Linked DNA regions of Homo sapiens. The protein of the gene in region 2 purifies or fractionates together with the protein of the main gene of each other region. This does not show direct contact. Each region holds a gene or a part of one and is shown on either strand. Other genes may lie near its edges. The genes, in order: RFC3 and PURB.

What was found.
Region 1: the proteins of PURB (region 2) and RFC3 fractionate together in Homo sapiens (co-fractionation; one large-scale study listed by BioGRID). This does not show direct contact.

What each region holds. Positions count from the first base shown.
Region 1 is NC_000013.11:33,827,956-33,831,770, reverse strand, and holds part of RFC3 (replication factor C subunit 3), read right to left. Parts: intron 1,936-3,815; coding exon 1,754-1,935; intron 1,053-1,753; coding exon 916-1,052; intron 516-915; coding exon 417-515; intron 1-416. UniProt on the Homo sapiens protein: Subunit of the replication factor C (RFC) complex which acts during elongation of primed DNA templates by DNA polymerases delta and epsilon, and is necessary for ATP-dependent loading of proliferating cell nuclear antigen (PCNA) onto primed DNA.
Region 2 is NC_000007.14:44,882,723-44,887,018, forward strand, and holds the start of PURB (transcriptional regulator protein Pur-beta), read right to left. Parts: upstream 2,809-4,296; 5' UTR 2,627-2,808; coding exon 1,688-2,626; 3' UTR 1-1,687. UniProt on the Homo sapiens protein: Transcriptional regulator which can act as an activator or a repressor.

The DNA.
Region 1 (3,815 bases), on a different chromosome or scaffold from region 2:
GAACTAGAAGTCTGACTTATAGTCTGGTGTCTTTCTAGCACATGATGCATCATTGATTACAAAGTTTTACATTGTCCTTTACTAGAAAGCTACGCACATTATCTCTAGCTTTGTGTTGTATGTTAATGTTAAGTAATCTGAGATCCTAAAAGGAAAATTAAAATTAATATAAATTCCACTTTTACATGATCACATGTAAGCCATGATATTACAGCTTAATAAAAGCCATAATATCACACACCAACTATTCTGAACCACTAAATTTCTGAAGTTAAATGCTACATTTTCCTTAAAAAGTTAATACATAGATTCAGGATTTAATTATAATTCAAAATGACATTAGCATAAAATAGTTAATATGTGTCCTATGATATCCTGATAATGAAAGCTTTACTGTCATCATTTTATACTGGTACCTTTGTGGAGTTTGCTGACTGACAATAGCATTTGCAGTCTCCCTCAGATACACCTCCCAATCTGTCTCAGGGATTTCTTGATCTGCAGTAAAAGGATATCTACATGACAAAAAGAGAACACAAGAAGTTAAACAGAAGTGTGCTTATGTCCTAAAACAGGAGTCCCCAACCACTGGTCCGTGCGGTTAGGAACCGGGCTGCACAGCAGGAGTGAGCAGCGGATAGGCCAGCATTATGGCCTGAGTTCCACCTCCTGTCGGACCAGTGATGTTATTAGCTTCTGATAGGAGCGTGAACCGTATTGTGAACTGCTTATGCAAGGGATCTACGCTCCAAATGAAAATCTAATGCTTAATAATCTGAGGTGGAACAATTTCATCCTGAAACCATCCCCCACCCCTGCCCAGTCCATGGAAAAATTGTCTTCCACAAAACTGGTCCCTGGTGCCAAAAAGCTTGGGGGCCAAAGTCCTAGAATGTAACTACCCCTTCCACTCACTGTTGCACTCTGCAGGCTTCACACATAAGCAGGGCTTTTCTGAGATTTCTACAAGACTTCTCTGCAAGTCTATGAGCCAGTTGTGAAGGAAGATTCAGACCTTCCTTCTTACACACAGTAGATAACACGTGGCAAATCTACAAATAAAATTAACAAAAATGGGCAATCCATTAAAAAGCAGATTAAGATTCATTTCTGTTGATATCCTCCTAGACCCTTATAACTGTATTACTCTCAAAATTCTTATAAGTGAAACTTACACTAAAAGTAACTTACCACTCTGCATCTAACACAATGTTGCATATTATCCCTACTTTGCATGAAATCTCCCAAAATCTATTAAAAGCTGGAAAGATATTTAATGTGAGGAATCATAATTTTTGCTGATGGCTGTTAAGAATGGAGAAAAAAATATATCTATGTATATATATTCATATTAATGTTATTTCATACTAACTTTAATTCCCTTCCTAGGGACTAGGTATTCCCACATCATCTCTTTGCAAAATCTGTTTCCTCAATATTCCAGCCTCCTCTTATAGCCAACTAAATCAGCTTGAGAAAGAAGACAGTAAATAACTAGCCCTTACCTAGTTTAGTAGAATTCGTAATACCTACTTGTTCAAAGTAAAGATGGTTTAAAGGGAAAAACACTTTCTATATATTGGCATCTGGTATTTACAACTATACGCTTTGGTTTGTTCACATATTAATGCTTTGCATCCAGGTCTGTAGGTGTTCTTAAATTACTGATACGATTCCCTTCTTTTACAACAAGCATACAATATTCAGAGAATCTGAACTGATTTATTTTTCAGAAAAGTGTAACTTGACCTACATCTTCAATGCTGGGAGCAGGCACACGAACCGCCAAGCACCTACTACGAATAGGTGGGATCACTTTAGATGTAGAATTGCAGCACAAGATCAATCTGCAGGTAGACATATATTTTTCCATGGTTCTTCGCAAGGCATGCTGAGCATCTTTGGTGAGTTTGTCAACTTCTGTCAATAATACCACTGAGTCAAAGAGAAACAAAACAAACTTTAACTTGAGTTCACTCAAACTTTAACTTGTCTCTTTCTTCCTTCTCATTATCCAGGATGAAATCCTAAATAATAAGCCTGATATACTACTCTTCCCATTGGCAAAGATAAAGTTATAAGTATGGTAAAATTACTTTATTATTTTAAAATGCTACAATCATACTCCAGTTTCTCTTCAGATCATATAAATATTTTGCCTTTTACTAAAGACTTCTATAGAGAGGAACAGCTCTGAGTTTTTAATATTGTGAGACCTTGCGTTGGCAGGGCTAGTAAAAAAAAGAAAAGAATCTATAATCAAACAAGACCAAGAAACACTAGGCTAAATGAAGTTAAAAGGTCACTTTGTAGTAGAAATCATTGCAACCTTTATTATTTATATGCGCTAAAATTTACCAAGACAAGGAAGTACTGTGCTGCATTTCCCCAAAATAACTTTACTCAGCAGCACATTTCTGTGGTACACCTTAATCTAAAATATTAAATTCCAAGGAATAGACTTTGGAAGACAGTGGTGCAAGAGATGTAGGCAACAAGGCATGAGGATATCTGGCCACCATAAAGTAAGATTCCATCTGGCCACAATCACAGATCAGCCTTAACATAGTTCAGGAATAATGTATACACAGAAACTGAATCCAATATTGTATTTTTCATTATATTAACAAATTATTTCTAGAAGATGAACTGGCAGCATGTAGCATTTAGATCTGCCCCATAAAAATAAACAGAACAACTAAAGATTCCAAAACAAAGAACCCATGAACATTATACAGAAACCAGGCAACAAGCTTTACCCAAGAACCCCAAACATGAGCAAGTGAGAATAAGCAACTAAAACTGGAAAGGCCCACATAGTATCAGCAACGGTGTGGGAGGAAGATTTTGACAGACTTTATGACAGGAAAAGCTCAAAATCACCCACGGGAACATACTAGAAACCATGGTGCGGCCAATTTGAAAGCAGCAGTTGGCCAGGCACAGTGGCTCATGCCTGTAATCTGCCTGTAATCCCAACATTTTGGGAGGCTGAGGAAGGCAGATCCCTTGAGCCCAAGAATTCAACACTAGCCTGGGCAACATAGCAAAACCCCATGTCTACAAAAATACAAAACATTGCCGGGCATGGTGGTGTGTGCCTGTAGTCCCAGGAGACTGAAGTGGGAGGATTACTTGAGCCCAGGAGGTCAAGGCTGCAGTAAGCTCTGATGGCACCGCTGCACTCCAGCCTGTTGCCACACAGTGAGACACTGTCTCAAAGAAAGCAGCAGTCTTACCGAGGGGGGAGATTCGACAGAGCCCAATTTATGGGTGAGAGCAAGGGAACCCTGATGCAGTAAGGTTTGACAGAACAGCAGACTCTGAGAATACCAAAATGAAGTTCCCTTCTAAGACAGTGTTCCAGGTGGCTGTGGCTGGTGCAGTGGCTTGTGCCTGTAATCCCAGCACTGTGGGTAGCCGAGCTAGGAAGATGGCTTGAGGACAGGAGTTCCAGACTAAGACAATGCTCCACAATGAGAAGAAATCCCAGACCAAATTGAGAACAGGTAAAAGAGAGACAAAGGAAAGAATCCCAATAAAGGTGACAGAAAATAAGATAGGGAATAGAGCTCAGAACACAAGGTCATTTATTTACTTTATTTTTTTATTTTATTTTTTTAGAGACAGGGTCTCACTCTGTCACCCAGGCGGGAGTGCAGTAGCTTGATCATGGCTCACTGCAATCCCAAACTCCTGGGTTCAAGCAATCTTCCCACCTCAGCTCCCAAGTAGCTAAGACTACAGGCATGAGCCTAATTTTTTTTTTTTCTTCCTTTGGCAAGATCGGGTCTTGTTGGTCTCAATTTCCTGGC
Region 2 (4,296 bases):
CTAAGATTGTGGAGGCGGGGTTACTTGCCTCCTGGTTGAGAAGGTGTCACACAAAGAATACCTGAAAACTTTGGAAAGAACGTTAGCTCCCATTCAATTCAAAGTTACCTAGGTCTATGACATTTCTAGGAATACCTTTTGATGGGGTGGGATTAACTTGATTAGTAAAAATCATTTCTACTGAAAATCCATTTAAAATATAGAAGAGGCGATCCTTGAAAACCCCAACTTTTATTCTTGAAAGACAGCTGGATTAACTGGCAAAAGCCAGTTTGTTGAAATTTCAAGATGGTATAAAAATGCTTCCAGGATATAGTCAGCATATTCACGTTCACTTCAGTTCCATTCACAGATGGATTTCAGCTTCCACCGGGTGCACTGCTTGAATCACTCATCCATCATTTGCCAACTCTGATTGTGAGGTACTGATACAATGGATCAAGTTCTTAAAAATTTTAAAAGAATAAATGATGCTGGAATTCTGGACCTGAGGATCTTTAGTATTTGAACAAATCCACAGATTAAACTGAAGGTAAATTAAGACTTCAGTTTTGGTTATTTCCAACTTTTCTGTGAGGATGTATATCCATTAAAGCTCAGGCTTATAGCCACACTGTTACTTTTGTAGGTAATCTTCAAGTTTTATGGTTTAAAATCCAGCCAACCAGTGGCTGTAACAGCCGAATTAGCCATAATTCACTGGCTCACACAGTGGAGATCTGGCTCTCATTCATACCAAAGCATTTCTTGGTAATGACCTCCATATTTAGAGATCAGGGGAACAACTTTAGTGAGCAGCAACCAATCCACTCAAACAGTCTGCCTTGTGCTTTATGCCTGACTTTTTCTTGTGCCTACCTCAGCAACCCCCAATGTAAAACTGCTTTTATCTTTGAAAATTTTTTGTCAACTTTGAAACTATTTTAGTAACGGATTCTACTCCAAGCATTGCTATCTGAATCCACTGGCATCCTGGAAAACAATTCTGCGAAGAAAAGACATTTGCCTTGGTCCAGGTTCCATGCAAAACCATTTTTTTAAAAAAATGGATCCAATTTGGTTCTGTATTCTTAGATGGCTTCTTGAAATCTTATCTTTAACCTGTTCATGATTATCCCAAGTTGCATTTCTTTTCGTGAACCTGAACCCTCAGAACTGGGTAATTGTAAAGGCCTCTCTTCTCAAGGATTCCATGAAGACCTAGATCCAAAATGCTGATTTCAATGGAGGTGAAGGGATAGACACCGCAACAGTGAGGCCTAGAGAGATCTTTTATGCCAGATTACCCAGGTGCAACCTAAATGCAACTGTTATCAATGGTCTGGGTAACTTGGACATGTTTCTTGCCCTGGATGTGCAAGGATCTATTCCCTCCAGGGATTATCCTGATGGGTTTACGAACCTCAGTTGAGAAACAACAGAAGCTGAGACAATTTTACGCAGGTGAGGAGATGCTGTTTTCCTCTTTGCAGGTTGCTGTCAGTTCCTTGGAACTTGACTGCTTTTCTCAAGTTGTCCGTCACTGTTCTCTTACGATTATTTCTCTTAACTGTGTTACGTTTTGTTTTTTCCCTCTGCGGCCTCCCTTGCTCCCTCTCCACTAGCTCACTGGGGATGAGCAGGAAAGGGAATTCTCTAGCCAAGGGGATGGTGGTTGGGTGGAGGCCTGTAGGGGAAGCTGCCCGTTTCAATCCTCATCCACCTCCTCACCCTCTGACTCTTCGCCGCCGCCGCTGCCCCCACCACGTCGCTCATAAAGCTTATCCCTCTGTCGTTCCTGGATTTCTTTCATCTCATCCGCATACCGGCAAAAGGCGCCTCCGAACTTGCCCCAGGCTTTGAAGGGTACGGTGATGGCATTGCGGTAGGACGGCTTCACCTCGCTCACTCGCAGAAACACCCCGTATTTGTTGCAGCCCACATCGAAGAAGAAGCGCTTGGAGTCCACGGTGATGGAGGTGCCCTCCGGGAGCTCTCCATACAGGCCGCCCCCTGGGCCCCCGGCGCCGCCTCCCGGGCCGCCTGCCAGCTCGTCGTCCTCGCCTCCGTAGTCGTCTATGAGCTTCGCCAGCGCGTCGCGGAACTCGATGAGGCCCTGCGCAGGCAGCGCGATGGTCTGGCCGCTCTGCAAGCCGCCCGGCCCGGGGCCCGCGCCGAAGCCGCCACCGCCGCGGTTGACCGTTTGGCGGATGCGCAGGAAGCGGCCGCGCTGGTTCTCCTTGAGGTCCAGGTAGTACTTGCGGTTCTCACGCACCAAGAATTCGCTCTTGAGCGCGCGCCGCGGCCCGCCGCCCTCCTCGGCGCCAGCCGCCAGCTGCTCGGGGCTGCTAGGGCCCAGCTGCGCGTAGTGTTCTATGAAGTCGCCCAGCGAGTCGCGGAACTCGGCGGCCACCGCCATGGACAGCGTGAGGCGGCTCTTGGAACCGCCCGCGCCCACCTCGGCGATCTTGAGGAAGCGGCCCTTGGCGTTCTGCTTCACATCTAAGTAGAAGCGCTTGTTCTGGATGTCCAGCCGCTTCGAGGCCAGCTCCTGCGTCTCTTGCTCGCCGCCGCCGCGGGACGCGGGCTGGAACCCGCACGGCCCACCGCCGCCGCCGCGCTCGCTGCCGCTGTCGCCGTCCGCCATCTTCTAGGCCGCCGCCTCGCCGCCACCGCCCGCCGCGCTCGCGCCCCCGCCCTCCGGCTCGCGCTCCGGGGCCCCCCAGCCTCGCCCGCCCGGCTCGCTCACGCGCTCCCGCCGCTCATCGCCGGCCGCCGCCGCCCCCCCATCGCCTCCGCGCCCCGCCCCCGCGACTTCCGTGCAGCCCTAGCCACTTCCGGCGCGCGATTTCCCGTGAAGTCACTCCGTCCCGCCCTCCGCGGCCTCGCGGCCGGAAGCGCCGCGGCGGCGTGGCGCAGAGGGGTGACGTCAGGGGCCGCGCCGGGCGGGCGGCAAGCTGAGAGTAGGCTAGTGTTACTGCTCGGTTTCTAGCCCTGGGGACTTGCCAGCCTTAGCGTGACTCAGCCGCCCGCTGCGTCTGTCTACGCGCCTCTTCCCGTGACACTTTTACTTTAGACTCCGGTGTCGTCCACTTCCCTCCTTCTCGCTTCCGGGGCGTTAGCTGAGCATACTCAGGCCCCAGCCTGCTCGCGCTGGTTGTGTGCTGGGAACAGAGTTCCAGTCTATACACTGGCGACCGGGGGGAGGGAGATCCTTTGGAGCACTCGGAAGCGGGTTCTGACCAGCCTGTGGGGTTCCCTAGAGGAGGCATGAGCTGACTCTGAAGGGCAAACTGCAGTTGGCCTGGCAACTCTGGAGAAGAGCCACCCAGCATAGGAGACGGCAGTGCAGAGGCACCCAGGGCCTGATGCTGGGAGCTCAGAGCAGCTGGGGGTGTGTATGCCTGAAGAATGGTCGTAGATGACACTGGAGGGTGGATTAGATCAAGGAAAGCCATTTGCAGTGCGGGAGAGTTAGTGCCTACCCCAGAGTCTGGAGCCACCGTATGTGATCAGGTTCACATTTTGGAAAGATCACTGTGGGAACAATATAGAAAGAAGATGATTTAGGATGAGGTTAGATTTGGGATCCAGAGATCAGTTAACTGTCCCCACAGTTAGCCATATTAAAGTGGTTAAGGAAATTGACTGCCAATCTTTAGTTTCTTTATCAATAAAATGAATAATTCCTATGAGGTCTTTTTGTTGTAAGCATTGAGGTGTAACAAGAGGCAGAATTGGAATAGTGTTAAAAAGTGTAGGCTCTGCAACTGCACTGGGTTTGAATCTGTGACCTTGACCAGTTACTTGATTTTCCAAAGCCAAAATGTCCTCATCCTTAAATTTTTTTTTTTTTTTTTTTGAGTCTTGCTCTGTCACCCAGGCTGGAGTGCAGTGGCGTGATTTTAGCTCATTACACCCTCCACCTCCCGGGTTCAAGCAATTCTCCTACCTCAGCCTCCTGAGTAGCTGGGATTACAGGCAACCGCCACCACACCCGGCTAATTTTTGTATTTTTAGTAGAGATGGGGTTCCACAATGTTGGCCAGGCTGGTCTTGAACTCCTGACCTCAGGTGATCTGCCCGCCTCAGCCTCCCAAAGTGCTGGGATTACAGATGTGAGCCACCACACCCAGCCTAAATGTAGTTATTCATAGATAGTGAATCCAACAATGGACTTGTAAAGAACACAAATAATAGATAACCCAATATAAAAGGTGAAAGATTTTAACAGACACTTCGTCAAAAAAGCCAGTAAGCACATGAAACAGTGCTCAACATTATTCATCATTAGGGAAATATAAATTAAAGTCAGAA